2 separate regions of the Homo sapiens genome follow, and region 1 is reported to be linked to region 2. The links are microRNA targets in miRTarBase. Many come from high-throughput screens and were not tested one by one. Region 2 holds a microRNA gene; the other region holds the end of a gene's coding sequence.
Evidence for each region. The annotated mature microRNA hsa-miR-1915-3p reads CCCCAGGGCGACGCGGCGGG and lies in region 2 at 3,324-3,343, opposite strand. An mRNA with a match to its seed (bases 2 to 7 or 8) in the 3' UTR can be bound and repressed. Matches are read on the target gene's strand: a 7mer-m8 pairs with bases 2 to 8, a 7mer-A1 pairs with bases 2 to 7 and ends in A, and an 8mer does both.

Region 1: miRTarBase lists RGS12 as a target of hsa-miR-1915-3p. The part of its 3' UTR that is shown has no 7-base or 8-base seed match.

Annotation. Positions count from the first base shown.
Region 1 is chr4:3,438,828-3,444,187 of GRCh38, reverse strand. RGS12 (regulator of G protein signaling 12) reads right to left here. Exons shown (of 18, transcript NM_001394154.1): 18 at 4,275-4,733. The coding sequence ends at 4,504. It overlaps HGFAC (HGF activator), which reads right to left and starts at 2,220. Exons shown (of 14, transcript NM_001528.4): 1 at 2,070-2,220; 2 at 1,276-1,456; 3 at 1,042-1,138; 4 at 768-847; 5 at 27-149. The coding sequence starts at 2,186. RefSeq lists a silencer at 641-690.
Region 2 is chr10:21,493,253-21,498,612 of GRCh38, forward strand. It overlaps MIR1915 (microRNA 1915), which reads right to left and starts at 3,389; the gene lies at 3,310-3,389. It overlaps MIR1915HG (MIR1915 host gene), which reads right to left and starts at 4,008. Exons shown (of 2, transcript NR_160800.1): 1 at 3,498-4,008; 2 at 1-2,693. RefSeq lists an enhancer at 1,271-2,064 and silencers at 1,576-1,675, 2,489-2,928, 2,979-3,028, 3,239-3,488.

The sequences.
Region 1 (5,360 bases), not on the chromosome of region 2:
CTGCGGACCTCCGAGGCCCAGCTCACCTGTGCCGCAGTCCTTGCCGGTGAAGGCCCGGGGGCAGCTGCAGTGATAGGACTGGGGGTCCTGGGTATTGGAGCAGGAGCCTCCATTGAGGCAGGGGCCGGAGGCACAGGGATCCAGGGCAGCTGGGGACATGCGGGAGGGGGTGTGAGGGGCGGACTGGGAGGCTCAGGGTCCCTCTGTGACATTCTCTGCTTGCTAAGGCGTCCATCAGGCCCCAGTGAGGGGCTCTGAGAGCAAAGGGGCCCTCTCTACGCCCCTCGGGGTGCAAGGTCCCTGGGAGGGGCACAGACCTCCCCTTCCTCCCAGCGTCCCCCACTCAACACCTGGGCCACTGGCCCAGCTGTGCACGTGGCTTCCTGGAAGCCTGACACCCACACTGTCAGGCAGCAGACCCCTCCCATGTGTCCCAGGACCCATGTGAGCAGGGCGGCTGGCACCGCACCCCACAGACCCTGCCCACCTGTCCCCTGCCTGGGGCACGCCTGTGTGGCTGCAGGGCCCGGCCTCACCACCAGGCGGCGCCTTGGCCCCAGCGATGGCCGCGCAGCCACCATGAGACGCAGGTCCCACCTGGGAGAGGCTCTGGCCCTAAGTGGCACCCACCGGGGTTAATCCCAGAGCTCCTCTTCTGCTCCCCTCCAGCCAGGACCCCTGCCCGGGTCCGCCCCATCCTCCCCTTGGCCCTTCTGGCCTGGCCCAGTGCCCCCTGCCCGCCCCAGGCTACCCAACCCAGCACCCACCTGGGCCCCCTGGAGGCGGGGTGGCCTCCACACAGTAGCCCCAGGCCCTGTCCCGGTCGTAGTTGTGAGTTGTGGCACACCTGGGGGGCGACACCTGCGTGCATGGGGGTCCCAGGCAGAGGCCCCCCACCCCACCCCACCACCCTGGAGGGTCTCTGGGTTCACTGGGTCCGCCTGCTGCGTGGTGAGCGCCTACTGTGTGCCCGGCTCCCAGAAAAGCAGGCAGCGTGGGGCAGGTGACCCCAGCTCGGGTGCCCCGGCTGCCCGGACCCACCACTTCCTGTGTGCACTGCCCTCCGAAGTGCAGGCATGCAGCATGCGGCCCCCGTAGCGGAAGGGGAACCTGCAGGGCCTCCCGTCCTCGGTGAGTGCTGTGGGGAGGGGGTGGCAGGGTCAGGGCTCCCTCGAGGGGCACCCGAGCCCCTCAGGACCTCCAGCCGCAGCCATGCTCCTCCCACCCAGCCCTAAGGTGAAGCACGACACCTCCTCCCAGGCCCACCTGACCCACCTTGGGCCTGGGGGCTACTGCTCGAGGGAACTGCCCTGGGCGGGGGCGGGAGCCCCCCACTTTGGGGTCCCTCTGCCTCTGGAGCACTTGTTGCTGGGGTCTCAGAGGTCACAGAGGTCACCAGGATAGTGGGGATCGCAGGGGTCGCTGTGGCATTAGGTTCTGGGGACTCCGTACGGTTCTAGGAGGAGCAGAAAGGGTGTCAGTGTGGGACAGACCCTCACACTCAGGTCCTGCCGGGCAGGAGGTCACAGCCCTGAGCCTGTTTCCATACTGGGGCCCCCAGATCTCGGAGCAGGTTCCAGGAGGACACACGACATTCCTGAGGCCTCAGCCAGGCCCTGACACCTTCCCCGCCCTCGGCCCCTAGTTAACACCTGCTCAGGGTCACTGCCCAGGCCCAGGCACTGCTACCCACCAAGCTTAAACCCTGACGTCAGTTTTTGGTGATGGGAGCAGCTAGGAGGCCCTGGGAGGTTCCCCCAACCTCACGCATCCAGACCCAACAGAGGTCCAGAGAGAGGGGGCAGCCCCCAGACCCATAGGGGCCCAGGCCAGGCCGCACAGGGATGACAGCCCCCAGGTGGGGCTCCGTGAGCCCAGGCCCCAGCCTCCAAGGCCAGTCCAGCACCCACCTGCCCTGTGAGGGCCAGCTTTCAACGTAAGCCCCCTGCTCGGACCCCCGCCCCCTCAAATCCCCACGCTCTGTGGCGACCCTCCCTCTGGCCTCCTCCCAAGGACCCCAAGTAGCCACTGGGAACCTCTGGTCGCACTGCGACAAGGTCAGTGCTCACCCCGCCAGGCTGGGGCTGGAACCCCCGTGGCAGCAGCAGCAGCAGCAGGAGGAGGAGGAGGAAGGGGCCCAGCCCCGGTGGGGGCCAGGGGCTGGGGACCCAGGCCCAGCGCCCCATGGCTCCTGAGCTGGCCTGAGGGGCAGTGGGAGGCGGGAGCAGAGCGGCCAAGGCAGGTGGGGTCAAGGCTTCGTGGAAATGATTAACCCTGGCTGCCTCCCACGTCAGGCGGGCCCAGCCGGAGAGGAAGTCCCCGAGTCCCCTGGCCCCCACACCTGCTGCCCACCTCACTTTGACCCTACCTGGAAGCCCAGCTGTCTCTCTGGCCTCGGCCTGCACTGGTCCTAGTCCTAGACCTGACATGGTCCTTGGGCCTCAGCTTAGAAGCCTCCTCCAGGAAGTCTTCCAGGATAATGCAGATAGGTTGGGGCCTAGATGGTCTGGCGCCGCTCCCAGTCCCTGCAGGCCACAGAGCTGGCCACCATCTGCCTGTGAATTGTCCATGATGAGAGCCACTACGGGCGCTGGGCCTTGGAGGTGTCCAGCTCTGTGCCCAGCACAGCACAGACAGTAGCAGTGGGGATGGGATTGTCCCTGTCCCACAGACGGCAGCACTGGGGGCTCCTGGAGGGTTCGGTGCTGCATCCTCTCGGTGGCCCCAGGGCTGGCCAAAAGGCCAGGCACAGGGAGGAGAGGGGCCACGCAATGGCTGAGTGTAGCATAGGATGACCTGAGATCCTGCCCCACCTGCCTGTTCTGACTCTGGGGGTGGCCAGGGCCCCCCAGCAGCCCCTGGTGATGTTCAGAGTGTCCCTTCCTCCCCGTCTCCCAGACAGACCCAGGAGTCCACTCCAAGAAGCCTTTCCAACCCCAGCTCCCCACCGCCGCCTGGATGGTACAGGCCAAGTCTGCGGCAGCACAACCCTGGGCCAGGTACCCTGGGGCCTGGGATGGAGCTGGAGTCACGGAATTCGTGACTTGGGGCTGTGGGCAGAGCTGCCTGAGGAACCTCTTCTGCAATATTGGAGCAGCCGCTACGGCACCTCGGGTTCCTCCTGAGTCAGCAGCGACATCCCAGGGCTGCCGAGGTGGGAGGAGGGGTGAGTGAACCACTGTGGCCTGGAGACCAGCGAGGGCTGAAGCTGCCTCCCTGTATCCCCTAAAACCCCTCTCTCTGCCCCCCATTTGCCTGTCTGTGCAGAGGGAGAGAGAATGGACACCCACTGACCACCCAGCTTGACACCGTGGGCCCCAGGGGGCACAGTGCACATGGAGGCGTGGTGGGCCCTGGGGGCACGGTGAATGGGGGGTTGGGGGTTGGGGGGGAGGTCATGGTGGGCCCTGGGGCACGGTGAATGGGGGGTTGGGGGTTGGGGGGGAGGTCATGGTGGGCCCTGGGGGCACGGTGAATGTGGAGGCATGGTGGGTGCTGGGGGCACGGTGAATGGGGGGTTGGGGGTTGGGGGGGAGGTCATGGTGGGCCCTGGGGGCACGGTGAATGTGGAGGCATGGTGGGTGCTGGGAGCAGGATGGATGCGGGCTTGTGGTGGGTGGTACACACAGCTGGCACTGGGCTTCATCTTCCATTCCGACCCCTCCCCCAGCCCCCTTCCTAGAGCACCACTAAGTGGGGTGCATCCACTCCCTGGAAGCTTCTAGAACAGCCCCAGGGGACTGGCTGTGCTCTCGGGCCTCTAGGATGGTCTGAGGAGCTCACCAACCACCCTGTACCGAGGGTACTTGGCTTTAGGGGTTCCATCAAGGCAACCTGGGGAATGGCCCTGCCTCTTCCGACTCAACCCAGCCCCCAAGGCCCCGGCCTCCCCTGCAGCCACACCTGGTTCCCTTTCTGTAATCAGACCCTCCTTAGCCCCAGGGCCTTGGCACAGGCCCAGGGCTCTTTCTAGACTTCCTCTGCCGTCCAGTTGCAGTTTACATGGTCCCTCCCCAGAAAGGCCCTCAGACCACCCTGCTAAACAAGGCTGGGGCAGGGTCCCCACGTGACGGCGAGAGCCAGTCTCTGCCATCTGGTCCTGGCCCTCAGGCCCCAGGAGCCAAGCTTCCCTCTCCTCAAAGCCCCCTTGACCTTACCCTGGGGCACTTCTCCTCCTCAGGCCCCTCTGTTTCCTGCATGACCTCCTGGGGATGTGCTCGGAGTCCCCGAGAACGAGGAGTCTGTGTCCCCAGCACCCAGCACCAGGCCGACGCTTGGGTCCTCAGAAATGCTTTATTGGGCAGCAGGAGGCCAGGGCCAGGGAGCCCCATGGCCAGCATGGCGAATGTCCGGGGCCAGTGCCTCCAGCGAGGTCACCCCCTGCCCTCCTGGCTGGGCTCCTGAGGGTGTGGTGGCCAGGGTGGCCCCCCTGAGGCCCACAGAATCCACCTGGGCTGCCCCACCCCGACATGTCCACAGGAGAGTTGGCCAGGCCAGGGCAGCTCAGACGAAGGTGGCGTGGTGAGCGCTGGTCTTGGGCTTAGCAGGCTCACCCGGGACGGGGCCCAAGCCAGGGAGGTCTGATGTAGGAGGCCCACCACTGGCCTGCGACCTCCCAGGGCCAGCCTGTGCCCCCGCTATGCCACCATCCCGCCCGGGCGCCGAGCCAGTTACAAGATCCACATCGATGATTCTGTTGACTGGGAGGTCTCGGCTGCCATGGGTCCCACTTCCTGTCACAAGGAGAAGAGAAGCTGTCACTTGCCTGGCCCGGCCCTGGGCCCCCGGAACCCACCCCCTACCCCGAAGGCCCCTGCACAGACAGCATGGTAGGGGTCCCTGAAATATCCCAAACACATCCCAGAGGCAGCTGGCGTCCCGCTGTGGGCCTCCAGGCTGGGGCAGGTACGCCCAGGGGAGGTGCAGTGTTCCCAGAGCCCTCCACATAACACCTGCCACCAAGTGGGGGAGCCGACCCACTCAGAAACCCTACCACCCTGCTTCCCCACTGCAGCTCAGGAACAGAGCTGGGCCCCCGGCAGAGCCCCCGCCCCAACTGCCCCCCTAATTCCTCCTGGGGGCGTCCTCAGGGGCCCCCCCAGGCCCAGGGCCCATCCTCAAGGGCCACCCCCAGGGGGCTGAGCACTAGGGTTCAGTTCCAGATAGGCTGGACCCTCTTGGCCTGGTGGAACGGGCCCTGAGCCCTGTGTCTGCTGCCCCATCCCACCCTGCCAGGCTGGCCACCTGCTCGCCCACCTGCCTCGCTGCCTCAGCACCGTCTTCACCGTACACACCCTGCTCTGGGCCTCCCGGTCGTGTCCCCTCCCCCTCCATCCCTGGCCCCCCTACTGAGGCCCCTC
Region 2 (5,360 bases):
AGACTGACTGCCTCTCTACATTTTGATTCTGAAAGAAAGTGCTTGGACTTTTAAAGAACAAAGAAGAAAAGCCTTCATTTTCCTTCCCTCCCTTCCTCTCTACAATTTAACCAAGCAATTTTTTCTAGGTTCTTTTGTTTTAATATAAGAACAATAAGGCCGGGTGGTTGCTCACGCCTGTAATCCCAGCACCTAGGGAGGCTGAGGTGGGCGGATCACAAGGTCAGGAGTTCGAGACCATCCTGGCTAACATGGTGAAACCCCATCTCTACTAAAAGTAAAAAAAAAAATTAGCTGGTCATGGTGGCGGCTGCCTGTAGTCCCAGCTACTCAGGAGGCTGAGGTAGGAGAATTGCTTGAACCGGGGAGGTGGAGGTTGCAGTTAGCCAAGATGGCGCCACTGTACTCCAGCCTGGACAACAGGGCGAGACTCCATCTCAAAAAAAAAAAAAAAAAAAAAAGAACAATAAAGCTCTTCTGTCTTTCTTCTCTCTTCTTCTCCTCTTTCTATCTCCAGGACCACAAATTTGACTAAAAATAATTGTCCATATGGAATCCTTAATGTATCAACATAGGAAGGAGACACCCACTATCCCAAGACTCAGCCCACCTGGCCTAGATGGGCCTAGATTTAGAGTAAGCATTACAGGCTGATTAAGTTTGGTGCATGGTTTATCGGGTGAGCGTTCCCCACCCCACTTCTTGCAACTTTGCTTGCTCATCTAGGGGTTCCCGGAGGGCCCCCAACACCCCCTAGCAGGGCGCGAGGTAAGTGGAGAGTTTGCCCGGGTGCTGGGTGATGTGCCCAGCAACTTCTGCTTTTTCCCCTGGGGAAAACTGTGACATTCGAAAGGTGTCTGCAAGTGTTTCTTCTGGTTGGCCTGGAAGTTTCCCGAGTCCCTGGACTGGCGACCCAAACTCCTACACTTCCTGCCCGGTGCTGGGAAGAAACCCAGATCAGCAGACAAATCAACCACACCCTGAGCCCCAACATCGAGCTCCAACATGTGCCTTTCCCGCCGAACGAGAAAGCGCGGACCCCTTGCAAGCAGCATATAGCCTCGGCGTGACCCGTGGAGAGGCGGGACCCCAGTGGAGAGAGAAGCACGGAGAAGCCTGGGAAGGAGCTTGGTAAGAGGGGCACAGTCCAGGCTGCCCCATGCGCGCTGGGGTTGTCGCCGCGCCTCCTGCGCGCCCCAGTGCCCCCAGAATCTCCAAGAAAGCAATCGTGAGCGCGGATCAGTTTCTGTCTTTCCCAGAAAGCGGGCTTTTTATTGAGGGGAAACTTAGCTGGGAAAAGTCAGCTCGTACGTTTGTTTTGGTTTTTCGTCTATTTGCTTCCCAATTTAAAAGTGGCCGCCTAGGCGACAGGCCTGCGGTTTTCACAGTGTAAAACGGATCAGAGGGAAAGCTCCAGCCCCTCTCGACTTTCGCTTGCGGTTTGCAACCCCTGGGGTGGGTCTGACCCCGCGCGGCACTTGCCCAGGCGAGCTTCCCTCGTCGCGGCCCGACCCGCGCGCGGACTCGGCTTCCCCAGGTCAGGACCCACTAGGTGGGCCGCTCGGCCCCAAGCCTGGCAGGGCGGAGCCTAGGCCGCGCGCCCCGGGGTTGGAGGTTCCCACGGAGCCGGGAAACTGCGCGCCCCAGGTCCGCAGGCCGCCTCCCTTCCCTCGCGCCCTCGCACCCGCCCTCTGCTCTGCCGCTCCCGGTCCTGGGTGTGCGGGAGTCCCGGGGGTCCCTCTCCTGGACGCAGAGGAGGAATTTGGAGCAAAAGGAAGGGAATTTACTGCGGATGGCACCGGAACCTGAATTGACTTGTGCGTTTCCTGCTCTGGGCACGTAGGTTTCCCCTAGGAATCTGGAGTTCGCTGAGGACACTTAATTCCAAGAGATGATGGGTTCACATAAACATACCATTTAGTTAAGAAAAATATTTAAAATAAAGAAAAAAGAAAAACTGAACTTCGATCTTCTTCTCCACGTTCCCTGGTGTCACCAAATAAACAAAGCATTCGGACGAGAGTGGGCTGCTGGGGGCTCGGGAGGTGCGCGAGACAAGGTTACCCTGCGGGTCCGCCACTGCCCCCGGCCTCCAGCACTGCACTGCCCACGAGTTTGCGGGGTGTGAGCGCCGAAGGAGAACCCCGGACCGCCCAGTCTCAGCCTAAAAACTTGGATCCAAGAGTCCTACGGTTGTGGATGTGCCAGTCCTCCGCGACCCTTTCCTGCTGGCCTTCTGCTTTTTATAAACGAAAATAAAAGTTTGATTTAGGCTTAAAGAAATGTCATTCTGGTCGTTCCTCCCTGAAGCGGGACTTACTCAACCTCATATACTCGCCCGGAATTTTCAATCTCGCCTGTCGAAATCGCTAGCTGCGCATCCGCGGAAGAAGTCCTGGATGAGAGGTAGGGTGAAGGGATCAAGCAGATAGCAGCAGGCATCAGCACACTCCGGCCGTTCCGGACGGTCAGGCCCGCCGCTACAGGGAGAAGTGCGGCGGATGGAGCCAGGGCTGCGGGTTGCGCGCGGGCTGGGAACCCGGTGGTGCCACCTTAAGAGTCGGGTCCGCGCAGCGGCTGCGGAGGCGCCCGGCACCTGCAGGGGGCGCTGCTGCCCCGTGGTTTCTCCCGCGCCGCCGCGTGCAGCGGGCCTGGCAGCTCCGGGGCCCCGGTCCCCGGAGGGGGTGGGGACGCTGGGGGAGGAAGGGAGCGAAGTGCAGCCGTTAGGTAACGAACCCGAACCCTCCCGGATTCAGAAGCGGCCTCAGTGAGGCGTTTGCTGGAGGGAGCTTTCCATCATTCGGCCGCGAGAGGAAACGTGGGGAGGCGCCCTCCCCTGCCCCCACCGCCTGCCTTCCTGCCTCCCTCCACCTCCGCTCCCCGACCCCGACCGTGCTTCCCAGACCCTTTGTTCTCGAGGTTGGGAACGGCTGGGTGGGGGTTCCCCGGGGAAGAGGTCCCCCGCGCCGCTCGGAGGGGAAGGGACTGTCGCCTGCCCCGCACCCCAGCCCTCCCCAGTGCCGTCCCCCTTTCCCCCGGCCCCTTCCATCGCGTCCACGCGCTTCCGTTCTCACTCGGACTCCCCCAACTCCCGAGCTCCGGCTCCCCAGCCTGCACGGTCTGCAAGCCCGCCTCCCTTCCCACTTCCCCGCCACCTCTGAGGTCCCCGGGAAGAGGGGAGGAGAGGGAGACGTGTGGGGGAGGAGAAACCACAGAGCCTTCTCGGCGCGGAGCATTCCCAGGGACCCTTCCAGGCCCCGACCCCTGGGACCCGCTGCAGAGGCAGGGCTTTCCCGGCGCCGCCGCAGGTCGCTAGGGCCGCCCCCGCCGCGTCGCCCTGGGGCCCACGGGTGCACGGCCCGGGCAGCAAGGCAAGGTGCGGCCTCTCAGCGCCAGGACCCGAGACCCCCAGCTGGAGAGAAGGGGACACCGTGGTCCGCGCCCTGGGGAGGCTAATTGCACACGAACGCCCCCCTCTTCCCCGCCCCCCACCGTACCCTCTGCAGCGCCACCCGCGTCGCCTCTCCGCCGTGCGCCACCCTGAGGGCTCCCGCGATTGCATCTTCTTGAGCACAGTTACCAATGCGTTCAGCTTCGTTTCTTACTCGGATGGAGACATCGCGGAGGGAAGCGAGGGGACAGGGATGCGGTAGTAGGGGAAAGGTGGGGCGGGAAACCGAGCAGAGAGGTGGGAGACTTGGCTGAGGCAATGGCACCAGGCAGGGCCGCCCGGAGTCCCGAGTCCAGGTCCGCGAGGCAGGCCCCGGTGCAGCCGCGCCCCGGCCGAACCCTACATGTCCTCTGTACTGTGGACACGAGTCCGCGGAGCGCCAGTCACACCCCCGCACCCCTGCAAGCTCCCGCCGTAGAGGGGGCTCGGCACCATCCTGGTCACAAAGTACGTGCCCCCACCCCCCACCCCCAGGTGAAGAGGACGCAGCCCGGCGCCGTCAGCTCCAGGCTGCCTGGAGCCCCCTCCGGCCTCTCGGCGCGACCCTGGTCCTCAATGGCTCGTCGCGAGCTGCGCTAGCTGCTCTCTCGGCAGCGGGTTCCCCAGGACACACCCAGTCCCCACCCCCCGAGAGCTGGCGGCCAGCTCAGGATGCCAGGCGGCCAGGCGGGCGCCCTGCCAAATTCCGCGTTCCTCTCCAGGAGACGGGGAGTTGCGTCCCAGGCTCGGGAAAGCCCGCAGTTCGGGCTTGGGACTCGCTTACAAAGCCCCCCAAGGCGCCAGGGACGCCTCTGCAGGTTGAATTCCTGCTCCGTATCACTTCAATTTTAATTAATCTTTTAAAACACCGCTGTCACGTCGCTTGCAGAAAATTAATCAAACTTGAATCCTTGTTGCATAGCAAGAATTTCGATCCGAGTCTTTTAAAAAGGACTTGACTTTGCAAAGTCACGTCTTTTACAGTTCCCTCATTCCCCCTTTAGCAAGGGAAATACTGCAAAAGTCAAGACATGTTTGTTTGGTTCTTTCTATCTTCAAAATGAAACTTTGCTTATTTCTGATCTTTATTTTCCTGTCTTTGAACAAAAAAAAATAACGAGATAAATTGCCTACCTCGATTAATTCAAAGTATAATTACTTTGAATGATCTTTGTTTAAGAGCCCAGATAAACTAAGATAATCTTAATTTTAATGTGACACGACCCCTATTTTTCCTTGTGAATAATGAGAATAAAGCAGTCATTAATTAATACCAAGATATCTCCATAGAAGATGGTATCTGTTCTCGCTGAGACACTGAAACATCAGTTGTATTAGTAATTGATACTGTATAATTGAACATGAAGATAGCCGTCTATTTTTAACCTCCAAGCTCAGAGTTTATTTGGTGATTATTGAGCTCCTAATAATTAATTTTTTTCCTTCTTACTGCATAAATAATTCTTACGACTCCCAGTTCCCATGCAATGCAGAGGCTTCTCATTAAAACCTACCCCTCAAAATATAAGATTGTGAAGCTATATTGTGCAGCAACTCCTTCTATTTCATTATTTGTAACATATTTCCTCTATTTCATATCTTCCTGGTGCATTTCCTTTGCTGTGATTTTCCTACTAAATCTATGAGAATATAACTATAACATCTTTTACCATAGCTTTGTCTTTCTGTGATCTCTTGGTTCAGTTTAATACACAATACTTAAGACTTCAATTTTTCAAGTTACTAAAATTTGAGGATGAGTTCCACTGAAGAATCAAAAATACTTGTATAGTGAAGTTGCCATGGATTATATTCCCAACCTAACACACAGTCCACTTTAACTCACACTTTTCTGTTGTTAAAAATAGACTTTGCTCAAACACATTCCCTTTTTCCAACTTGAGTTGAAGAGAGTTCTCACAATTTCCTG